Linked DNA regions of Homo sapiens. The protein of the gene in region 1 interacts with the protein of each later gene in a pairwise test. Each region holds a gene or a part of one and is shown in the gene's direction. Other genes may lie near its edges.

Evidence for each region.
Region 2: the proteins of ZNF296 (region 1) and TOR1AIP1 interact in binary tests that used the Homo sapiens proteins (3 or more experiments, as listed by UniProt).

Annotation. Positions count from the first base shown.
Region 1 is NC_000019.10:45,071,188-45,083,607, reverse strand, and holds ZNF296 (zinc finger protein 296), read left to right. Parts: upstream 1-7,129; 5' UTR 7,130-7,234; coding exon 7,235-7,532; intron 7,533-7,745; coding exon 7,746-7,895; exon of another isoform or gene 7,896-7,981; intron 7,982-11,027; coding exon 11,028-12,007; 3' UTR 12,008-12,108; downstream 12,109-12,420. UniProt on the Homo sapiens protein: May be a transcriptional corepressor with KLF4.
Region 2 is NC_000001.11:179,897,301-179,909,358, forward strand, and holds part of TOR1AIP1 (torsin-1A-interacting protein 1), read left to right. Parts: intron 1-2,825; coding exon 2,826-2,867; intron 2,868-2,961; exon of another isoform or gene 2,962-3,264; intron 3,265-4,001; coding exon 4,002-4,088; intron 4,089-6,665; coding exon 6,666-6,722; intron 6,723-10,522; coding exon 10,523-10,564; intron 10,565-11,304; coding exon 11,305-11,373; intron 11,374-12,058. UniProt on the Homo sapiens protein: Required for nuclear membrane integrity. Induces TOR1A and TOR1B ATPase activity and is required for their location on the nuclear membrane. Binds to A- and B-type lamins. Possible role in membrane attachment and assembly of the nuclear lamina.

The DNA of each region.
Region 1 (12,420 bases):
AAAAAAAAGAAGAAGAATTGGAAAAGAAAATGTGAAAAAGAGCTCTCCCTGGGAGGCATCTAAACCTCATCACCCACTCTGCATAATTAGCTGCCAAATCTTACTGATCTCACATGCCCATAGGTGGCCCAAATAGAATCCTCCTTGGCAAAATTGTTTTGGGGATGGAGTCTCACTCTATCCCCCAGGCTGGAGTGCAGTGGTGCAATCTTGGCTCATTGCAACCTCTGCCTCCTGGGTTCAAGCAATTCTCCTGCCTCAGCCTCCTGAGTAGCTGGGATTACAGGTGCGCGCCACCATGCCTGGCTAATTTTTGTATTTTAGTAGAGACAGGGTTTCACCATGTTGGCCAGGCTGGTCTACATCTCCTGGTCTCAGGTGACCCACCCCCAGTTCAGCTTCCCAAAGTGCCGGGATTACAGGCGTGAGCTACCGCGCCCAGCGGGCAACATATTTTCAATTTTAACTTTATTTTATTTTTCTTCTTGGCAAAATACGTAGCAGAGGTCTGCGAACCTTCTCTGTAAGTATTTTACTGTCACTGCTCAACTCTGCCACAGTAGCACAACAGCAGCCATAGACAATATGGAAACAAATGAACATGGCTGTTCTCCAACAAAACCTTACTTACTGGGACACTGAAATTTGAATTTTATATCATTTTTATGCACCAAAGAAAAGTTTTCTAGCCAGGTGCGGTGGCTCACAACTATAATCCCAGCACCTTGGGAGACTGAGGCTGGAGAATTGCTTTAGCGTAGGAGTTCAAGACCAGCCTGAGCAATATAGCAAAACCCCATCTCTACAAAAAAAAAAAAAAATTAGCTGGGCATGGGTAGTGTGCGACTAGAGTCCCAGCTACTAAGGAGACCGAGGTGAGGGGATCGCTTGAGCCTGGTAGGTGGAGGCTGCAGTGAGCCATAACTGTGCCACTGTACTCCAGCCTGGGTGACAGAGTATGAGACCCTGTCTCAAAAAAAAAAAAATTCACTCATCCACATTATCTAGCATTGTTAGCACATCATCTGAGTGCCTGCTCTGTGCATGACCCACATTGGGCGGTCTTGGAAACACGTCTAGGACTGAGAGCCCAGTTCCGCCTTTGTGGGCTCACAGTCCAATAGGGGACACAGACCTGTCCTTAGGCAGTGATGACCCAAAGTGAGTAGGGCTGGAATGAAGGAGTCCAGAGGAGACACCTGACCCAGCCTGGGGGATAGAGGGTAGTTTCAAGGGAGCCCAGGAAAGATCCCTATGATAAGATTACGTTTGAGCATAGACCTGAATGAAATTAGGAATGGAGCCATGTGGAGATTCCAGTCAGAAGGAAGAGCAAAATGCAAAGATCATGGAAAGGGTGGCTTTGGGGCGTAGCAAGGCCAGTGTGGAGGAGGTGGGGGCAGGGACAGAGAGAGTGCCTTGTGGGCTGTGATGACAATTTGGGTCTCTACTCTGAGACTGAAGCCACTGGACAGTTCTGAGTGAAGGATGGGCAGAATCTGGCTTAAGGTCCTCAGGATCCTCTGCCTGCTGCATGGACAATAAACGAGATTGAAGGGAGACACTAGGAACGCAATGAGGAGGTCACTGTAGTGGTCCAGGTGGAAGAAGATGGCGTCTAGTATGGGCTGGGGACAATGGGAATGGGGAGAAGTGGTCAGATTAGGCTATGTTTGAAAGGTCGAGGCTGGGCGCAGTAGGTCACGCCTGTAATCCCAGCACTTTTGAAGGCTGAGGTGGGTAGATCGCCTGAGGTCAGGATGAGACCAGCCTGGTCAACATGGTGAAACCTCTCTCTACTAAAAATACAAAAGTTAGCTGGGTGTGGTGGTGCGTGCCTGTAATCCCAGCTACTCGGGAGGCTGAGGCAGAAGAATCGCTTGAACCCGGGAAGCGGAGGTTGAAGTGAGCGGAGATCGTGCCATTGCATTCCAGCATGGATGACAGAGTGAGACTCCATCTCAAAACAACAAAAACAAACAAAAAAAGAAAGGTCAAGAGCCCTCGGTGATGGACAGGATAAGGGATATATAATTTGAGGGAAAGAGCAGCCAAGGGAGACTCCAAGGTTTTTTTTTTTTTTCCTGACAGGGAAGACCACGTGAATGGAATTAAGGGATAGTTGCATTTTCTAATTTTTTTTTTTTTTTTAAGACGGAGTCTCACTCTTGTCGCCCAGGCTGGAGTACAGTGGCATGATCTCAACTCACTGCAACCTCCGCCTCCCGGGTTCAAGCAATTCTCCTGCCTCAGCCTCCCAAGTAACTAGGACTACAGGCGCGCACCACTGCACATGGCTAATTTTGTATTTTTAGTAGAGACGCGGTTTGGCCACGTTGGCCAGGCTGGTCTCAAACTCCTGATCTGCCTGCTTCAGCCTCCCAAAGTGCTGGGATTACAGGCATGAGCCACCGTGCCCGGCCTTGCATTTTCTAATTTTTTAAAAAGCACATTTACTTATTTATTTACTTTGAGGTGAGGTCTCGCTGTATTGCCCACGCTAATCTTGAACTCCTGGACTCAAGATATCCTCCCACCTCAGCCTTCCGAGAAGCTGGGATTACAGGCCCACGCCAACACGCCCTACTTGCATTTTTTATTTTCTCTGACCACTGTCACTCCAATTTAGTCAGGCCTCACCAGCCCCCAGGGTCTTTCCTGAGCCTAGATTAACACTTGAGTTTCAAGAGAAACCCCCTAGTCTCTAGGGTGAGTACTTACTAAATGACTTAGATAGGATTAGAGTGGCCAAAGAATTCTGTTAAATCCCTGGATAAAATGAAATTAAGGGAGGGCCAGTATAGGGCCTTGTTTTCTCCATCAGGAAAAAAAAAAAAAAAAACAAAAAACAAGGGAGATTTGGTCATATTGATGCAATCCCCATTTTTGTAAAGTGGCCAGTGAAGCTGGCAGGTCAAATCTTTCCTCGGGCTGGGTGCAGTGGTTCACACCTGTAATCCCAGCACTTTGGGAGACTGAGGGAGGCAGATCACCTGATGTCAGGAGTTTAAGACCAGCCTGGCTAACATGGTGAAACCCTATCTCTACTAAAAATACAAAAAAAATTAGCTGGATGTGGTGGCACGCATCTGTAATCCCAGCTACGCAGGAGGCTGAGGCAGGAGAATCCCTTGAACCAGGGAGACGGAGGTTGCAGTGAGCGGAGATCACGCCTCTGCACCCCAGCCTGGGCCACAGAGTGAGACTCTGTTTCAAAAAAAAAAAAAAAAAAATCATTTCCTTGGTGCAAGCTGGAGGGTGGAGGAAGAGGGAGCAAACTCTGGTCCTCACCCGTGCCCCATGTAGAAAGGCAGACTGTGGAGCCAAGGTGTGACCTGATAAGAAACTGGTTTAAGAAAGATCACACAGGGTGTGCCCAGGAGGGTAGAGGCAGGCGTTATCCATTGTCCCTGGTGACCTGGCCCCAGAGGCCTTTATCCTTTCAGTCTCCAAGGCAAGGATTTCCGAAGGTTTCAGGGAAAAATGCCCAAGCCCATCCCCCACGACTTGAAAAACTAGTCTGTTAGATTCAAGAGCCCAACACTTAGGTCAATGGCAGGGGCAGGGGTTTCACAGACCTCCCTCCTGGTGGCCCCGGTGCTCCAGAGAGGAGATCAGCTCAGTGGACAAACATTTGGCCAACTCTTCACAATTGCCAGGGTGTGGAACCAGCTGAGTTGTCAACAGAGAAGCCGCCAGACCTAATTAATTAACCAAGGTGTTGACGTGTCCACAGACACACACACACATACAGACATCATCGGCTGCTGAATCTTGATGCAAATTAGCTAAATGGGGCCACCCGAGAGGGTCAGAACCCCAAGCACAGAATCTCTCCCCTCCCCTTCTCCCCTGGGGCCGGTCAGTTTCCTTTCAATTCCGCCCTGACCACCCATTGCTCTCCTTTTCTTATACTAAGTAGGTCCTCCCGGCCCCCAGGCGTCCACTCCCCACACCGCCCTGGGCGTTCGGACTGGACCTTCTTCCCACCTCCAGGCTCAGACTGAGCGAGCGATTCCGCTCCAGGTAAAGCGGGATGACTGCCACCGATGCTTCTGTTATCGTGGCCATTTATTATTTTCCGGAGGGGAAGTTTTTCTCCTTCTCCCTTCTCCTCACCCCACCCGCGTGGGGCATTCCCGCTGCCGGCGATCGGGATCAAACAGTCCCTGATAGGAGCGTCTGGGGACCAGAACGTCCCTCCAGCCGGCGCTGCAGGCGCGGTCCTACCTCTTTCCGTCACTCAGGGCGTTGCACTGGGGTGAGCGTCCAGAGCTGGGGCCGGGGAGAGGGAACCTGCTGGCGACCCCCCACCACCTTGTACTCACCGAGGTCCGCGGCTACTGGTGTCCCCACTTCCGCCGGCGCCCCCGCTGCAGAGGCCCGGGCAGGCCGCAAGCCGCGGAGCCTGGGTTCCGCCCGCGCCGCCGCCACTGCCCCACGTGGTCGCGGGCTGGCTCGCAGGCTTGGAAGCCAGCACAGCCCGGGTCGCCACCTGGCCCGCGGCTTTGCGGGGCACTTGGGACCGATCTTCCTGCCTGCGAGTTGGGGGCGTCTGGGATGCCCATTTTAGGCAGGAAGAAACTGAGGTTCAGAGAGGGGAAGACTTCCTCCCTGCTGGGTTAAGGGCAGAGCTCGGTCTTTGCATCCCCATCCCCCTACACATACCCACTCCTAACCCCTTGCTTCCAGTGGGAACCCCCGCTCCTCTACAGGAAACCTGGAGATCATGGTTTCAGATGCCGCATACTAAGAAAGTAGCTGGGCTGGATCAGAGGCGGTCATTTTGTCCTCCAGCTCTCCCTGCAGTCCCATTTTACAAAGGGGGAAACTGAGGCCTTGAATGGGGAATATGAACCTCCCTATTCCAGGCCCAGTCAGAATTCACTTTCTCCTTGCGGGGTCCTCTTTACGCAGGGATCCTGTGGGCCTTTGCTTTCCACTAGATCACCAAGGCCTAGTGCCAGGTACACAATTTGGTGCTCTGCAAATATCTGTTGAAAGAATATCATCAGACACATAGTAGGTGCGCAATAAATATTTGTTGACTTAACTATGAACGAGTAGGGGTTGTATTTATGAACAAGACAGACTCCCATCCTGCCTCCTAGAACCTACGTTCTAGTGGGGGTAGAAGGGACAGAATAGGGTAAAATGAGCAAATATGTAAACAAGATCCTTCAGGGTTTGATCAAAGTGATGTATAAAGAATAAAATAGGCCGGGCACGGTGGCTCACGCCTGTAATTCCAGCACTTTGGGAGGCTGAGGCGGGTGGATCACCTGAGGTCAGGAGTTCGAGACCAGCCTGGCCAACATGGTGAAACCCTGTCTCTACTAAAAATAGAAAAATTAGCCGGGCATCTGTAATCCCAGCTACTCCGGAGGCTCAGGCAGGAGAATCACTTGAACCCGGGAGGCGGAGGTTGCAGTGAGCTGAGGTCGTGCCACTGCACTCCAGCCTGGGCAACAAGAGTGAAACTCCATCTCAAAAAAAAAAAAAAAAAAAAAGAGTAAAATAAGGGCAATGGGATAGTGGGTGGCTGGGTTGCCATGGAACTTAAAATTGGGTGGTCTGAGGCTGAGTGCAGTGTCTCACACCTGTAATCTCAGCACTTTGGGATGCTGAAGCAGGAGGAGCGCTTCAAGCCAAGAGTTTCAGACCAACCAGGGCAACAAAGCGAGTCCCTGTCTCTATTTAAAAATAATTTTTTTTGAAAAATTAAAAATTACAAAAAAAAAAAGGGTGATCAGAGGAGGCGGCAGTGAAGAAGAAACCACCTCAGATAACCCTCTAGTTCCAACCTGCCCTACCTCCTTTGACAGATGGAGAAAGTGAGATCCAAGAGGGAACTGGGGACAGATGGAGGTCATGGAGTGTAATTTGCAAGGCCTTCAGCAGGGTGGGGCTACTTTAGATACTGTTGGTCAGGGCCCTCTGCTCTCAGGAGGACAATGGAACCCAGACCTGAATAACAATGTGCAGAACTCCAAGAGATCAGCATCTGAAATCAGCATCTGGGCTGAGGACAGCTGGGGGAGGACAGGTTCTTGCCCTGACCTCAGGGGGCTTGCATTGGGTGGGGGAGAGGACAGTCCACAAGCCGTTCTATACTGTCGTGCAGTCGGTGCCAGGAAGAAAAGAATACTCATCAGGGATTGAGGGTGGGGCAGGGTGTCGATGCCACTTCAAACAGTGAGCAGACAGAACTGCTTAGGGGAGGGAAGTTCAAGGAGGCGGAGTGGAGGCAGGTGAGCTGCTTGGCTATTTGGTTTTAATGGCGACTTCTGGTCTAGGAACAGAGTCGATGTGTATGATTACAGTCCTCCTCTGCTCAAAACCCTCCTAAGGCTCCGGTCTCAGGAAAACCAAAAGACCTTAAAGCGATCAAAAGATTGCTTGGATCTGCCCCCATATTTTCACTGAACTCAATCCCCAACCCGTATTGCCTCTCCCTTTCCTTGTAATTCCTCAATGCCCAGGCCCACTGGCTGGGCTTCCTTCCCTCCAGCCTCAGCTCCACCATGCCCTTTCCCATCATAGGGGAGAAAATTGAATCCCTCAACCCCAGTAACCCTCTCCGCCTTTCCAGCTTTCTTTTGCTCCATGGCACTGGTCATCATGAAGGGCCATCTATATTTTACGTAATTATGTTTATAGTGTCTTCCCCCACCGTCTGAACTCCGTGCAAACAAAGATTATCTTCTGTTTATTCCCTCCTGTATTCTCAGGGCTTCAAACAGAGCCTGGCGCACAGGAGGCACTCAGTGAATGCTTGCAAAATGAATTTTTATTGTAATGCATTTAATGAAATAGCCCAGATTACTATCAGGCACCTAATAAGAAACGTGACCGACTATTTTTCTCGCTTGGGGGTGCGTGTGGGCATGCCGTGTCTCAGTTTCACCCGCCCTAAAACGGGATCAGGGATAGCTGTTTCAATGCCTTGTGGGAACTCGGTGTGATTAAATTTGGTCACTAAGCCAAACGCACGGGACACTGCCTAGATTGAGTTAGGCCGCCGTCAGGGCCCCAGCAGGGCGGCTCGGTCCCCTCCCATGAGCCCCGCCCTGGTAGGCGGAGCCACGGGCCCGGCCAGCACGTGTAAGAGTTCGCGGCGGGTCGCCGCAGTCACTCACCTGAGCGCGCACGGTCCGCGCGTCCTCCGCTCGTGCGTCCTCCGCCCGCCCGCCTGCCTGCCTGCCCGCCCGCTCGCTCGCCCGGCCCGCGACTCATGTCCCGCCGCAAGGCCGGCAGCGCGCCCCGCCGAGTAGAGCCCGCGCCCGCCGCCAACCCAGACGACGAGATGGAAATGCAGGACCTCGTCATCGAACTCAAGCCCGAGCCAGACGCGCAGCCCCAACAGGCCCCAAGGCTGGGGCCCTTCTCCCCGAAGGAGGTGTCCTCGGCGGGGCGGTTCGGCGGCGAACCCCACCACTCCCCTGGCCCCATGCCCGCCGGGGCCGCCCTCCTCGCCCTCGGCCCGCGGAACCCGTGGACCCTGTGGACGCCGTTGACCCCGAACTATCCCGGTGAGCACCCCGGGCCCTGGGCCCAGCCTCCCTTACCTTTGACCCTCGGGTGGGACCCTTCCCTTTGGGCATGGGCCCCTCGCCCTGCCTTATCTCCTTCGCCCCGTCCTGCCCCTCAGGCCCCCTTCTGACCTTCGGTTTCCCCTCTCCTTCAGCACCCTCAGCCCCCATCCTGGCCCCACCCCACGCTCACCACCCGCTTCCTCCCTGCAGACCGCCAGCCCTGGACCGACAAACACCCAGATCTGTTGACCTGCGGCCGCTGCCTGCAGACCTTCCCGTTGGAGGCCATCACTGCCTTCATGGACCACAAGAAGCTGGGCTGTCAGCTCTTCAGAGGCCCCAGCCGCGGCCAGGGCTCAGGTGAGTAAAGCCGGGTGCAGTCCCCCTCTCAAGTTCGAGGGCTGGGCTTCCTGCTGGAAAGGGGCTGGGCTGGACGGCAGGGCACTGAGCACTACTTCCCCTTTCTCGCTCCCCATCGGGTGCAGCCTAGGCGTGGCCAGGGCCTGCCCGTCCTAGGGCAGGGACCAGTGGTGGCGGTGGAGGGGGGGCGGGGGGGGACTGGGCAGGGAAGGAGGGCCGCCTACAGGGTGTGGCCAGCCCCAGAAGACTAGCCCGGGATTTTGCCCCCCCCAACACACACCCCAACCTGGTTTCACTTCTCCTTCCCCTTGGCCAGAAATAACTGGCCAGGTGGCTGGACCAGGGTGGCAGTAGGAGGGGACCTCTAGGGAGGGCAGCGGCCGGGGGGAGGGGGAGTGGAGGCCAGCTGGAATGGGGAGGTTGCCACCCCCTCCTGTCTCTCTCTGTCAATTCTGATTGAGGTGCTAGTACAGCTGAGTGTTCAGAGCCAAGGAAGGGGCTTCTGGCTTCCCTCGGTGATGGAATCTCCCAGCCCCGCGTGCTGGGAATCCCCTGGTTTGAGCGAGCTCCCGGGTGCTGGACACCCGGGTTCCTTCTCTTGGGAGGGAATTAAAAGCCTTCACATGGGGCTTGACCCTCGGTGAGCTTTTGGTCAGTGTTGGCTGCAGGGCTTAATCCAAACCTAGTTTCCAGCCCCCTGGCCCTTGCCCTTCTGAGACTTTTGAGAAGTGGAATTATTTAGGGTTGGGCCAGGGAGGGTCTGGTGGTGGGAAAGAGGAGGGGCTTGTGACTGATTGAATCAGCTTTAGAGCTGGAGCATGGAGAGTGGCCTGGAGGAGCGAGCGAGGGGCTGTGATGGAATCGCTGGAACAAAACACTACAGGGCTTGGAGAATCATGGGCACCTTGGTTTCACAGGCTCTGCTGTTTGAGCGCTTATGTGGACCAAAGCTCTCAACCATTCCCCAAGCGAGGTCACAACCACCCTTGAAAGGGAGGGGATCTCTAGGGTCCCTGAATTCTAGCAACTGAGGCACACAGAGGACTATGTCTTGCCCAAGGTCACACAATTAGGGAGCAGAGAAGTCTGAATTTGAATGCAGGCCTGTGCTCTTGACCCAGGACTGGTTGTATCACAAAGGTTGTCCCATCCAAGACTCTAGAATTTGAAAAATGGAAAGGCTAGTTCACCTAGGAAGTGTCCACTGAGAGTACCCCGAAGGTCCAGATAGAAATCCAAATTCAGGTTTGGGGGCTCAATTTGAGATCCATGCAGAGGGTGGGGGACCCAGGTCACTACCACCTCTTTACTAGGTGGCCGCTAAGCTTTCTCTGTAGCTACCCCATTATTTTGAGGTGGAGTCTTACTCTGTCACCCAGGCTGGAGTGCTGTGGTGCAATCTCAGCTCACTGCAACCTCCGCCTCCCAGGTTCAAGTGATTCTCCTGCCTCAGCCCTCCAAGTAGCTGGGACTACAGGCGTGCACCACCATGGCCAGCTAATTTTTGTATTTTTGGTAGAGACAGGGTTTCACCATGTTGACCAGGCTGGTGTCTCAAACTCCTGACCTCAGGTGGTCCACCTGCCTTGGCCTCCTGAAGTGCTGGGATTACAGGCATGAGCCACCATGCCCAGATATCTCAATTACTTTAAAAATTATTTTTATTAAACCAAAAAAAATTTTTTTTTTTGAAACAGAGTCTCGCTTTTGTCACCCAGGCTGGAGTGCAGTGGTGGGATCTCGGCTCACTGCAACCTCCGCCTCCTGGGTTCAAGCGATTCTCCTGCCTTAACCTCCCAAGTGGCCGGGATTACAGGCGCGCACCACCACACCCGGCTATTTTTTATTTTTACTAGAGACAGGGTTTCATCATGTTGGCCAGGCTGGTCTCAAATCCCTGACCTCAAGAGATCAACCCGCCTCAGCCTCCCAAAGTGCTGGGATGACAGGTGTGAGCCACCGTGCCCGGCCTAAACCAAAAATCTTATTCAAAAGCCTCTGCTCCCAGCCAGGTATGGTGGCTCACGCCTATAATCCCAGCACTTTGAGGGGCTGAGGCGGAAGGATTACTTGAGGCCATTAAGTTAAAGAATAGCCTGGGCGGCCGGGTGCGGTGGCTCAAACCTGTAATCCCAGCACTTTGGGAGGCTGAGGCGGGCAGATCATGAGGTCAGGAGATCGCGACCATCCTGGCTAACACGGTGAAACCCTGTGGCGTGGTGGCTGAGGCAGGAGAATGGCGTGAACCCCGGAGGCAGAGCTTGCAGTGAGCCGAGATCGCGCCACTGCACTGCAGCCTGGGCGACAGAGCAAGGCTCCGTCTCAAAAAAAAAAAAAAATAGCCTGGGCAACATAGCAGGACCCCATCTCTTTAAAAAATACTAAATTAAAAATTTAAAGCAAAAAAAAAAAAGCAAGCAAGCCTCTGTTCTGCCCTCTCCCCCTCCCCCAGTAGTCTGGATTGAAATCCCAGCTTCACCCCTTCCAAGCTGTGCAACCCTGGGGAAATGCCTCTCTGTGCCTCAGTTCTCCTGTCTGGAAAATGGAGATCTTATTTTCCTGTCCTGAGGGAAAGCCGGGCTATGAGCCATGGCTCAGCACCTAGCATGTAGGAAGCGCTTACTGAGTTAACATAACTTTTTAAAAGATTTTCAAACACATGGCCCAGCACAGTGGCTCATGCCTATAATCCCAGCACTTTGGGAGGCCGAGGTGGGTGGATCACTTGAGGCCAAGAGTTCGAGACCAGCCTGGCCAACACGGTGAAACCCCCATCTCTACTAATTAGCCAGGCATGGTGGCGGGCGCCTGTAATCCCAGCTACTCTAGAGGCTGAGGCATGAGAATAGCTTGAATCCAGGAGGTGGAGGTTGCAGTGAGCTGAGATCGTGCCACTGCACCCCAGCCTGGGCGACAGTGAGACTGTCTAAAAAAAAATGTTTTCAGGTACTTAGCACCCACTCCACAGATTTTTCGTGTCCACCCCTCCTCTGAGCGTCAGCTTCCTGGTCCTTCCAGGGTGTGTGTGTCTTGTTACTGCCAAGTCCTTTGCCCCTGCAGGAGTGCCTATCCCACAGAAGGTGTCCAGCTGGCAGCTGTCCGCACTAACACTCTGCCTCTTTTTCTTACCAGAACGAGAGGAGCTGAAGGCCTTGAGCTGCCTGCGCTGTGGCAAACAGTTCACAGTGGCCTGGAAGCTGCTGCGTCACGCCCAGTGGGACCACGGACTGTCCATCTACCAGACAGAATCAGAGGCCCCGGAGGCCCCGCTCCTGGGCCTGGCCGAGGTGGCTGCAGCCGTGTCGGCAGTGGTGGGGCCAGCAGCTGAGGCCAAGAGCCCCCGTGCAAGTGGCAGCGGCCTCACCCGGCGGAGCCCCACCTGTCCTGTGTGCAAGAAGACCCTCAGCTCCTTCAGCAACCTCAAAGTGCACATGCGCTCACACACAGGCGAGCGGCCCTATGCTTGCGACCAGTGTCCCTACGCCTGCGCCCAGAGCAGCAAGCTCAACCGCCACAAGAAGACCCACCGGCAGGTGCCGCCCCAGAGCCCCCTCATGGCCGACACCAGCCAGGAGCAGGCCTCTGCAGCCCCTCCGGAGCCGGCTGTCCATGCTGCTGCCCCCACCAGCACCCTTCCATGCAGCGGTGGTGAGGGGGCTGGAGCCGCCGCCACAGCAGGTGTCCAGGAACCCGGGGCTCCTGGCAGTGGGGCTCAAGCCGGCCCTGGTGGAGACACTTGGGGAGCCATCACCACGGAACAAAGAACTGACCCTGCAAACAGCCAGAAGGCATCACCCAAAAAGATGCCCAAGTCAGGGGGCAAGAGCCGCGGGCCCGGGGGCAGCTGTGAGTTCTGCGGGAAGCATTTTACCAACAGCAGCAACCTGACGGTGCACCGGCGCTCACACACCGGGGAGCGCCCCTACACCTGTGAGTTCTGCAACTACGCCTGCGCCCAGAGCAGTAAGCTCAACCGCCACCGCCGCATGCACGGCATGACGCCTGGCAGCACCCGCTTCGAGTGCCCCCACTGCCATGTGCCCTTCGGCCTGCGAGCCACCCTGGACAAACACCTGCGGCAGAAGCACCCTGAGGCGGCCGGCGAGGCCTGAGCCCAGGAAAGCCCCCCTCACTGTCCCTGGTACCGCTGCCAACACCCATTGACCTCCTCGTTTTTGCCCGCCTTCTCCAAGTAAATTTTCCCTTTTATTTACACCCGTCTGGACTCTGGCTTTCTTGGGGTGCATGAGGTGGGGCAGGAGGCTTCCCCTCCGTGGGGTGGACGGCTGGACAGACCGGTTTGGAGTGAGGGGGTGAGGGAACGGCCAGCCCCCAGTGCCTGGGGCGCAGCAGGACTGGCACAGAAAGCTGCGCTCCCAGTTCCTAGTGCGGGCGAGGCCAGGGCAGGGGCTGAGGCGAGGGCGGGGAGAGGCCCGGACCTGTCGCCAGAGGCCCTGGGCAAAGGGGCCCATGTGGGACATGCTGGGCCGACACCCTATGTCCACATCTGCGGGCAGGTCTGGGC
Region 2 (12,058 bases), on another chromosome or scaffold:
TAATTATTAAACCATCTCTCCATGCTAATTAGATAACACATAGATAAGCAGAAAAAAGATTGAATTTTAGGCAACTTGGTATATGGAGAAATGACTGTTAAATGAATTGGCTCTAGACAAATTGACCTGGAACTTCAAATGTGTACAGAAATAAAACATATCTTCAAATGTATACAGATAAAACATACCTATCGAAAAAAGGGATTACTGTATTAGTCATACTACTGTACTGTGTACTGTACTGTACTATTCTGATAGCTCAACAAATGAATGTAAATCTCCAACATATCCTTTCCATTATTATAGATTCTAAAATCTATTCAGCCCTAGTTAAAGAGGTTTTGTCTACCATATAATTTTTAGAGTAACTATGTAAAACATAACACTGAAATATAAATGGGACCTTAGTAAAGCCTACTGTATTACATGAATTACACTTAGAAGTTTATTGGAACCTCTCATATTAGGAAAAGTTCAGCTGTCAGCCGTTTCTTTATTCATCTATTCAAAAAATTGGCCAAGTGCAGTGGCTCATACCTGTAATGCCAGCACTTTGGGAGGCTGAGGCAGGCAGATTACTTGAGCTCAAGAGTTCGAGACCAGCCTGGGCAACATGGCAAACAAAACCTTGTCTCTACAAAAAGTATAAATATTAGCAGGGTGTGGTGACATGTGCCTGTAGTCCCAACTACTCAGGAGGCTGAGGTGGAAGGATGGCTTGAGCCTGGGAGGGAGGGGTTGCAGTGAGCCAAGATCACACCACTGCACTCCAGCCTGGACGACAGAACCAAACCATGTCTCAAAAAAAAAAAAATTATTGAGTGTTTACTATGTGCTGTTATGAACAAGACTGATGAGGTGGTAGGATTGTAATAGACTGGAAGTCAGAAGAACCTGCGGTCTTCTGGCTTTTTTTATTATTAAATTAGACCTATACCCTTAGACAAGTCACTTGATATCTATGAACCTTACTTATGAAAATCTTCCCTTATGATGAGATGGGAATCAGATGACATTCATGAAGGGTTTTTTGAAAATCAAATAGCATCATGCAAATATTAAGGACTTAGCATTTTAAGATAATAACAAAAATATGATTATTGATTCTTAAGAAAGCATCTTGTATTTGCATGCTATGTGAATAGTTACATAAATGAATAAAGTAAAACTGCTATACAAAAATATGAAGTACTATAATAATTATGCACTTAGATAATAAAACTTCAAAAAGAGAACAATACCTTTTTGTAGGAATGGAAATATTAATTAAAAATTTTTGGCCAGCTGTGGAGCTCATGCCTGTATTACAGTCTCAGTACTTTAAGAGACCAAAGTGCTGGGATTACAGGCTAGGAGATGGGAGGATTGCTTGAGGCCAGGAGTTTGAGACCAGCCTGGTCATGATGTAAAACCCCATCTCTTGTTTTAAATTAAAATCTTAAAAAAAATTTTTTTCGTTTGACTTTTCCTTTTTCTCCCTCAAAAAAGAGAAAAAGAAAGGACAGTGTTCCTAAGAAACCTAGAGCAAAATAGTACTTAATACACCAGAGTCTAGCTCTTTAAGAGTAACATGGTGTTATCAGCAGTTTTCTCTGGGTTAGTTTTTTTTTTTAAATAAAAAAATGTTGGCAAATATATTTCAGATACTGATTTGCACTTGCCACTGTCAAGAGGAAGTATTTTCAGTGGAACTCAAAGCTTGACTAGTATTATACTAATCTAATTAAATGGATTTAAAATAAATATTTTCAAATTCACCGTATAATGTGTTAGCAGTTGCTTTCTATAATACTATTGTCCCTTTTAATAAGCAAATTGAGGTTAAAATCAGTAGAGATAAAAGCTGAAATTTTCTCAGCTTTGTTGAAGAAGTCTAAATCATGCTACTTCTCTACATATGATCCTTCAGCGATATTTTAACCCAATTGTGAAATACCTGCATTTGGGTACATCTCACTATTTTTTTTTTTTTTAAGTTTCAGAATAGCCCATGTAAAAATACTATGTTCCAAGTTTATTTGATGTGTTTTGCTTGTTTATTTTTGTTCAAATTCTCTTTTGCACTGGAAAACAGTGACATACATGGACCCGCCAGAACTAGAAGTTTCTTTACCTTTCTTCCTCTTTGGATACACCAATGCTCGAAAGAACTGGGTTATCAGTCCAGTTAGTGTAGTTGGTTTTTAAAGGGAGTATAGGGGATTTGGCAAATAAGAGAATGAGAATATAGCAAACCTATACACACTAGAATATTTGTCAATGTAGAATTTAATGTTTTTTTTGCATACAAAGGTTACATTTTAGAGTAAAAATAGACCTGTGACTGAAGGAAAATTAAACACTTCATTTCCTTTTTCTGTTTGAGACAGAGTCTTGCTCTGTCGCCCAGGCTGGTATACAGTGGCGCGATCTCGGCTCACTGCAACCTCTGCTTCCCAGGTTCAAACTATTCTCCTGCCTCAGCCTCCCGAGTAGCTGGGATTACAGGCACACACCACCACTCCTGGCTGATTTTTGTATTTTTAGTGGAGACAGGGTTTCACCATGTTGACCAGGCTGGTCTCAAACTCCTGACCTCAAGTGATCCACCCACCTCGGCCTCCCAAAGTGCCGGGATTATAGGCGTGAGCCACTGCACCCGGCCAATTCTTAGTGATTTAACAGAAAAAGAATTTATTTAATGTGTCCTCATGTTCATTTTCCTAAACGAGATGCTCTTTTATTTATTCCTAAGCTTTAACTTTTTTCCTAAGCTTTTGTTTATTCCTAAGCTTTAACTTTTGATGTTATATGTTTAATATTTGATGTATGCTTTTTTCTTCTAGAAGCCACCAGTGTCCAACAGAAGGTCAATTTCTCTGAAGAAGGTATTTTACTTGTAAATATCATATAATATATACTTTAAGTCTTTTTCTTTACATTAGAAGCCATTCTGATAGATATTTAAGAAGTGGGAACAGAGCCGGGGACTGTGGCACATGCCTGTAGTCTCAGCTACTCGGGAGGCTGAGGCAGGAAGATCACTTAAGTCCAGGAGTTCTGGGCTGTCTGTAGTGCACTATGCCGATCAGGTGTCTGCACTAAGTTTGGCTTCAATATGGTGACCTCCCGGGAGCGGGGGACCACCATGTTGCCTAAAGAGGGGTGAATCCATTCAGTTCAGAAACGGACCAGGTCAAAACTCCCGTGCTGATCAGTAGTGGGATTGCAACTGTGAATGGCCACTGCACTCCAGCCTGGGCAACCTAGTGAGAGCCCATCTCTTAAAAAAAAAAAAAACAAAAAGAAGTTAGAACAGAAAATAATGTGTTTTTCTTCAAGAAAAAAAATTCATGCTTATCTGAACTGTTAACTGGGCAGAAATAATAGGACAGATAGAATGAGTGATGACAGCCTTACATTTTAAGCATCTTTTGTCTATTTGGGTTCATTTTAAGCAAAGATAATATTTTCTATTATGGTATTAAAGTAATCAGTTTTCCAAATTCTCATAACCAGTTTATGTTTGAAAAGTACAGGAATAAAATTTAGTTTTTGTTGAAGCTCAGCATAATCTGAGGGTGGTCACCTGCATAATAGAATGTTTGTGTGCAGGTGTGTGTACACTACCCCTCTACCACCAACACACACACACAAATACACATCTGAATTTAACTACACACTAATTATATGTAGTTTTCCTCCCCATAAACTTTTTCCACTGTTTAACGCTCATCTGTTCATTTTTGACTCTACATTAAAGCCTTATAGTTTTTTAGATATTACTCTGAATATTTGTTTAGGAAAGTATTATGTGCCCCAGAGGACACAAATTGAGATAAATTTTAGTTCCTTTGGAACTTTGGGATTCAAAATAATAAGCATGATAAACAAACAGTAGTTCTATATCTGATAACTTAAAAGGCTTCTTTTAATGTTAAATTATTTGCTTGGTTTTTTTAAATTCAGATCTTCTGAGCATTAAAATAGACTATATTAGTATATTGTTTACTTCTCTTTAGGAGAAACTGAAGAAGATGATCAAGACAGCTCTCACAGCAGTGTCACTACTGTTAAGGCCAGATCCAGGGATTCTGATGAATCTGGAGGTAATATTGCTTTATATACATATGACTCTTCTCATAGAACTATCTTTGGTATTCCATGAATTTGCTTTTTAAAAAAAACTTTCAAATTTTTATTAATACTTTATAAAAAGTCGTGAATTTTTCTTTAAATATTTATTAAAATTACTGATTTCGTGTTCATCCGATTAATACTATGTCATGATATCTAAACAAATCACTTTTAGCTTTTTTTGATATTTGTGGAAAATAAGATATTTTTGTGCTCAAAAGAAGAGTTACTTGTTGTTTTTTGAATTTTATAGAGAAACTAATCACATTGCCATTGGGACTGACAACACTATCTGGAGTGTTACTTTTAGGAAGTTTTCATTTAATTATATAACTAGCTTTATCTCTGGATTTTCAAATTCAAACCAAATTATTAATTAACAAGTTCTGATTGTTTATGTGAATTTAAGTTTATTCAATGAAAGAGTTGACTAAAGAGAGAAAAATACCAGTTTGAGGCTTAAGATAATGTTGAACAAGACCCTCCCCCCCAAAAAAGATAATGCTAAACAAATTTGTAAACTCTGTAAATAATGAGTAATTTTATACTTTAGTCCTGCACTTTCCCTTCACCACCTCCTTAAAATTTCTGTAATTCCAATTCTTTTTTTTTTTTTTTTTTTTTTTTAAGGCAGAGTCTCACTCTGTCACCCATGCTGGAGTGCAGTGGCGCAATGTCGGCTCACTGCAGCCTCTGCCTCCTGGGTTCAAGTGATTCTCCTGCCTCAGCCCCCCAAGCAGGTGGGATTACAGGTGCGCACCACCACATCTGGCTAATTTTTGTATTTTTAATAGAGATGAGATTTCACCATGTTGGCCAGGCTGGTCTTAAACTCCTGACCTCAGGTGATCCACCTGCCTCTGCCTCCCAAAGTGCTGAGATTACAGGCCTGAGCCACGACGCCTGACCTGTAATTCCTATTCTTTACCTCATCATTTCACTTTAAAAATAAGTACATAAGCTGGTTTGGTTTTTGTTTTTATTTTTTTGAGACAGGATCTCTCTCTGTCACCCAGGTTTGAGTGCAGTGATGCGATCATGGCTCACTGCAGCCTCGACCTCCCAGGCTTAAGCAATTCTCCTGCCTCAGCCTCCCAAAGTGCTGAGATTATAGGTGTGGGCCACCGTGCCTGGCATTATACGCTGGTTGTTGGGCATTTGGTATTCTGTGTGTTTCCCACCCTTCCTCATTTTTCCTATGAATTCTTGATACAGAAATGGAGATTTGTAACACGCTGGTAGTGTCTAGCTAGAATTTCTGGGTTCCATTCCTTCACTTTTTAGCTGTTTGCCTTTAGAGAGTTATTTAACTTCTGTGTTCCTCAGTCTTGTCATCTGGATTGTTGTGGGGGTTAAATTAATTCATATATGCAAAGCACTTACCTGGCACATAGTAAACACTAAGTGCTGTTATTAGTGTTCATACATATTACATGAAGCTCTAAAAATTAGAGGTTAATTAAGCCATTTATATAGCCAATAGTTTGCTGCCATTGCTACCAGCATAACTATTTGGAAGTACATAAACCTCAGGTCCTGTGATTGCGCGATCGCACTTCAGCCTGGGCAACAGAGCGAGACTCCATCTCAAAAAAAAAAAAAATATGGGCACTTCACCTTTTTGTATCAATGTGTCTGTTTCCAAAACAGCAACCTGATCACTTTTAAACTAATTTAGTTATAAATTCTACTTTTATTTGGGAAAAAATGTTTTTAAGAAGAGTAGACTGAAAGCAAGGCATGGTGATAGGTACCTATAGTCCCAGATACTGAGGAGGCTGAGGCAGGAGGATCCCTTCAGTTCATGACCAGCCTGGGCAGTAACGTGAGACTCCATCTCTTAAAAAAAAAGAAGAAGAAGAAAGAAAGAAAAAGAGTATACAAAAATATTGCCCACTTGCAATAAAAATTTAAAGCAAAAATGGATATTAATGATTTCAAGATGCTCCACTGTTGTAAACTTTGAAAATTTTCCGCAACTCAAAGGTTTTATTATGTCATTACCTTGGGGCATGTTCTGTATCATAACAATTTTTTAAGTGGTTATTAGCTAATATTTTAGATGTGACATGACTCTTTAGAAACTTTTTTAACCTTTTTTTTTTTTTTGAGACAGAGTCTCACTCTCTTGTTCAGGCTGGAGTACAGTGGTGCGATCTCGGCTCGCTGCACCTCTGTCTCCCTGGTTCAAGCAGTTCTCCTGCCCTAAGGCCTCCCGAGTAGCTTGGATTACAGGCACGCGCCACCACGCCCAGATAATTTTTGTATTTTTAGTGGAGACGGGGTTTCACCACGTTGGCCAGGATGGTCTCAATCTCCTGACCTCAGGTGATCCGCTTGCCTCAGCCTCCCAATGTGCTGGGATTATAGGCAAGAGCCACTGCACCCAGCCTAGAAATTTTTTAAATAAATTATGCATCCACGTTTTTAACCACCTGGGAGTTACCCGAATATTTTTGCTCTTTTTATTAATTTCTCACTGTTGTCTTGTAAAATGTACAGTCTAAAAGTTGGATATTATTTATAGTGTACTGTTTTTTATTTTTTAGATAAAACCACCAGATCATCTAGTCAATATATAGAATCATTTTGGCAGTCATCACAAAGTAAGTAAAGCTGTGTTTACAGTGTCTTCCTGTGAGCTTGGTCAAATGATGTTCCTATTTTTGAAGATCCTCTTTTGAAATTTAACGTAAATATTGAACAAGAGGAATAATGAATGCTAAAAAAAAACTTATCCGATATCTCTCTACCACTTGACCTTGCTTATTGAGTTATTATTCTCTATACCCAAACCTGAATTTGAACTTAAAAAACAAACAAAAAACTACTACTTCCTGTGATTTGTTGAATGTCTTTGCTAGCAGTATAAATGGGTTGATTGCTTTTATTTTAACAGACTAATGTAGTAGTTTGAGCCTATTTATATGCACTTATTCTAATAAGGACATAAAATTTTATATTAGTACAATTTCAACTCTGTTGTAAAAGTTTGGAAGGATGAATAAATAAGTGATAAAGCACATGTAATAAAAAGTTAATGGCAAGCTTGGTTATGGGTATATAAATATTCATTTCAGTCTTACAACTGAAAATTTTTGTGATCAAATATTGAGAAAGTATAACAAAAAAAGATTGGAAAGTCATATACCAAAATGCTAATAATGATTTGCTTAAGAATCATTGGTGACATTTTTTTAACTTTATTATTTTCTTTTTTCTTTTTTTGAGACAGGTTTTCACTCTGTTACCCAGGCAAGTGTAGTGGTGCCGTCATGGTTCACTGTAGCCTCGAACTCCTGGGCTCAAGGGATCCTCCTGCCTCAGTTTCCTGAGTAGCTAAGACTACAGGCACGTGCTACCATGCCCAGCTAATTTTTAAATTTTTTGTAGAGACAGAGTCTCACTATCTTGCTCAGGCTGGTCTCAAACTTTTGGGCACAAGCATTCCTCCCACATCAGCCTCCCAAAATGCTGGGATTGCAGGTGTGAACCATTGCGCCCAGCCACCTTTATTATTTTGTTACTACTGTTTTTTTCTTTTGACATTTTTAAATCAAGTCTCCCAAAATCTGAGTTAGTTATTAATCAACCAAAAATATCTTTGTATGTAAAAATCTTCAAGAACTTTTTTTTTCTTCCACATTACTTTCTTTTCTTAAGAAAAAACTTTTGGAAGGCCAGGCGTGGTGGCTCATGCCTGTAATCCCAGCACTTTGGGAGACCAAGGCAGGCGGATCACTAGGTCAAGAGACCGAGACCATCCTGGCCAACATGGTGAAACCCCGTCTCTACTAAAAATATAAAAATTAGCTGGGCGTGGTGGCGCGTGCCTGTAGTCCCAGCTACTCGGGAGGCTGAGGCAGAAGAATGGCGTGAACCTGAGGGGGCAGTGCGGAGCTTGCCGTGAGCCGAGATTGTGTCACTGCACTCCAGCCTGGGCGACAGAGTGAGACCCTGTCTCAAGAAAAAAGAAAAAAAGAAAAAGCCTTTGGAAATCTTTTTTAAAATCATTGTATTTCTAGAATTCAATTTTATATTTTTTATTTTAATTTTTAATAGGTTCTGGGTTTGTGACTATAAAATGAGACATAAAATGAATTAGCTGCTGGGAAAAAATCAGTTGTGGAAAATTACTCTTCGAATTATTTTATGTATTTGCCCTATTTTACTCCAAATCTTTGATCTTTGGAAACTCTTAAATGTATCTACCCGTATAAATGATATTATACCCATGCAGTGAGATACTATTTAGTCTGGGGACGGTGGCTCACACCTGTAATCCCAGCACTGTGGGAGGCCAAGGCAGGTGGATCACTTGAGGCCAGGAGTTTGAGACCAGCCTGGCCAACATGGTGAAACCCCGTCTCTGCTAAAAATACAAAAATTAACCACGTATGGTGATAGGTGCCTGTAATCCCAGCTACTTGGGAGGCTGAGGCAGGAGAATCGCTTGAACCCAACAGGCAACGGCGGCAGTGAACTGGGATTGCACCACTGCACTCCAGCCTGGGTGACAGGGCAAGACTCCATCTCAAAAAAAAAGAAATACTATTTAGAAATGAAAAATGAGTTAGTTCATTGTATCCTAATGAAAAGTTGATCAAGATATATTTCATTGACTTTAAGATACTATTGATTTTATGTATCAATGAGAAAGAAAAACCATCCAGTTAAACTATGCCATACCATTAATTAAAAGATATATCTGTAGATCAAAGGGCATTTTTTAAAAAGTATGTCTTAGAATTTGATGAAAATATTAAAACGTATGTATCCACTTTTTTAAAAGTATATTTTTAGTATAGGCTGAAAACAAAGCTGAGAGAATATCTGTCTTATTTACCATAATATTTCTATGTTCAATGTTTTGCACATAGTAGATACTTAACAGATAGATATTCATGAATTTTTAAATTAAGCATTTCTAGAATGGCCCCTTTTTTTAAACAGCTAGCACATGTTTGTATTCAGAAAAAGTTGAAAATAAATAAATGTAAATCGATACTTGTATTTATCATCAAAGAGTAACTCATTTTCTCAGGGCAGATTTGAAAATTTACCTTGTTATAATTGTAATGTCATTTTTTAGTCATCCCATTGTGTCATTTTACAGTTATCCTTAAATACCACCTCAAAACCTGAAGTAGCATGTTTTACTTCATAGCTACTTTGCAATGTCCATAAATCTGCATAGATAGTACATACCATTTCTTTATGGTATGGTATGTGGTATATGATATGGACTGCCTGGATTTGTATCTCAGCCCAACTACTTTTAGATATATAATTTTGGAAAAATTACCAATTTTGGTTCCCCCCCCCCCTTTTTTTTTTTTGAGACAGAGTCTCGCTCTGTCGCCCAGGCAGGAGTGCAGTGGTGTGATCTCAGCTCACTGCAAGCTCCGCCTCCCAGGTTCACGCCCTTCTTCTGCCTCAGCCTCCCGAGTAGCTGGGACTACAGGCGCCCACCACCACGCCTGGCTAATTTTTTATATATTTAGTAGAGACGGGGTTTCACCGTGTTAGCCAGGATGGTCTCGATCTCCTGACCTCATGATCCACCTGCCTTGGCCTCCCAAAGTGCTAGGATTACAGGCATGAGCCACCGCATCCAGCTGATTTTCCCTTATTTATAAAATACGAACAGTAATAGCATCTACCACATAAGAATTAAGCAAAATTGGCTGGGCATGGTGGCTCATGCCTGTAATCCCAGCACTTTGGGAGGGCGAGGCAGGCAGAGCATTTGAGGTCAGGAATTTGAGACCAGCCTGGCCAACATGGTGAAACCCTGGTCAGGAGTTTGAGACCAGCCTGGCCAACATGGGGAAACCCTGTCTCTACTAAAAAGACAAAAAATTTGGTCAGGCATGGTGGTGCACACCTGTAATCCCAAGTACTTGGGAAGGTGAGGCAGGAGAATATCTTGAACCTGGGAAGCGGAGGTTGCAGTGAGCTGAGATTGTGCCACTGCATTCCAGCCTGGGTGACAGAGTCAGACCCTGTCTCAAAAAAAAAAAAAAAAAAAGAATTAAACAAAATTATACTTGATATATATGACTATATGTAGTTTTTATTTTGATGGTACTGATCCTAAACTAACTCCTTATTGTTGCCCAATTCCTAAACATTTTGAAGTTTAGAAATGAGGGGGAAAGAAATACACACACACTTTATATATATATATATATATATATATGTATATATATGTATATATATAGTATATGTATGTTTTTTATATATATATACTTTATATATTTATATGCTTGGAATTGATGAGAGAATGTTTTTTGTCTGTTGTTTGTTTTTAGTATCCACAGTAAACAAGCAAAATGTCTGTGCAACATCTTTTTTGTTGTTATTTTCAAGTATTCTATGACCTTATCCCTGTTTTCTGTTTCAGGTCAAAACTTCACAGCTCATGATAAGCAACCTTCAGTGCTAAGTAAGTAGTTGGTTGTCTGCTCTTTTTTCAGCCAATCAATTCTTTTCTCTTTTTTTTTTTTTTTTTTTTTGAGACGATGTCTTGCTCTGTCGCCCAGGCTGGAGTGCAATCTGGGCTCATTGCAAGCTCCACCTCCTGGGTTCACGCGATTCTCCTGCCTCCGCCTCCCAAGTAGCTGGGACTACAGGCGCCCGCCACCACGCCCGGCTAATTTTTTGTATTTTTAGTAGAGACGGTGTTTCACTGTGTTAGCCAGGATGGTCTTGATCTCCTGACCTCATGATCCACCTGCCTCGGCCTCCCAAAGTGCTGGAATTACAGGTGTGAGCCACCGCACCCAGCCTCAGTCAATCAATTCTAACCTTGCCTTATTCTCCCAACAAAAGTTGTAATAAGATTTTAAGTCATTTTACCCCTCTTTACCTTTTTAATTCACCACGGATTGGTACTACCTATAATAATTACTCTGTGATATGGAAATGTGTTCAGGGCTATTTTACCACAAGTAATTTGTATTATGTGATAATATATTTATTTGCTACCTGCTTTGCTGTAGGAAGTGGTTCATCCTCACTGATACGATCCTTTGAAATTATCTTTTACTTATAAAACTATTGCTTTTATTGTTTTCTTCCCCTACTTTATTTTGTCTTTCTGATAGATTAATTTTATAACACTGGAATATGGTATAAACTTTCAAAGTATGGGAAATTATCTTTTGATATATGTATTTGCTTCAGGCTCAGGATATCAAAAAACTCCCCAGGAATGGGCCCCACAAACTGCAAGAATAAGGACCAGGATGCAAAGTAAGTAGATAAATCTCTGTTATTGAAATAATCTTGTGTATTTGCTATGTTTTTCTTGACAAAAATATTTAGTTCTTCAGATAAACATTTAGGTTGTTTGTGATTTCACTAATAAAGTACAGCTATGATTACTAGTTTAGTAATTTCTTGGACTGGCAGCACATGGGCTGGGTGTAGAATGTAAATAGTGGCGTGAGAAAACCAGAGATTGGCCAGGTGCGGTGGCTCACGCCTGTAATCCCAGCACTTTGGGAGGCCGAGGTGGGTGGATCACGAGGTCAGGAGATCGAGACCATCCTGGCTAACACGGTGAAACCTCGTCTCTACTAAAAATATTTAAAAAAGAAAAATTAGCTGGGCGTGGCGGCGGGAGGCTACTCGGGAGGCTGAAGCAGGAGAATGGTGTGAACCCAGGAGGCGGAGCTTGCAGTGAGCCAAGATTGCACCACTGCACTCCAGCCTGGGCGACAGAGCGAGACTCCATCTGAAAAAAAGAAAAAAAAAGAGAAAACCAGAGATTGATGGATTTTAACAAGCTGTCAGTTATAGCAGCAATACAGTCTGTATACAATAATGAAATTCTACTCTTTTGACAATACTTATTTTTTGCTTTTAGCAGATTTTGGAACAGCTTTGTATACTCATAATTTTACATAATAAAGGCTGAAATGCACAAGTTATATTT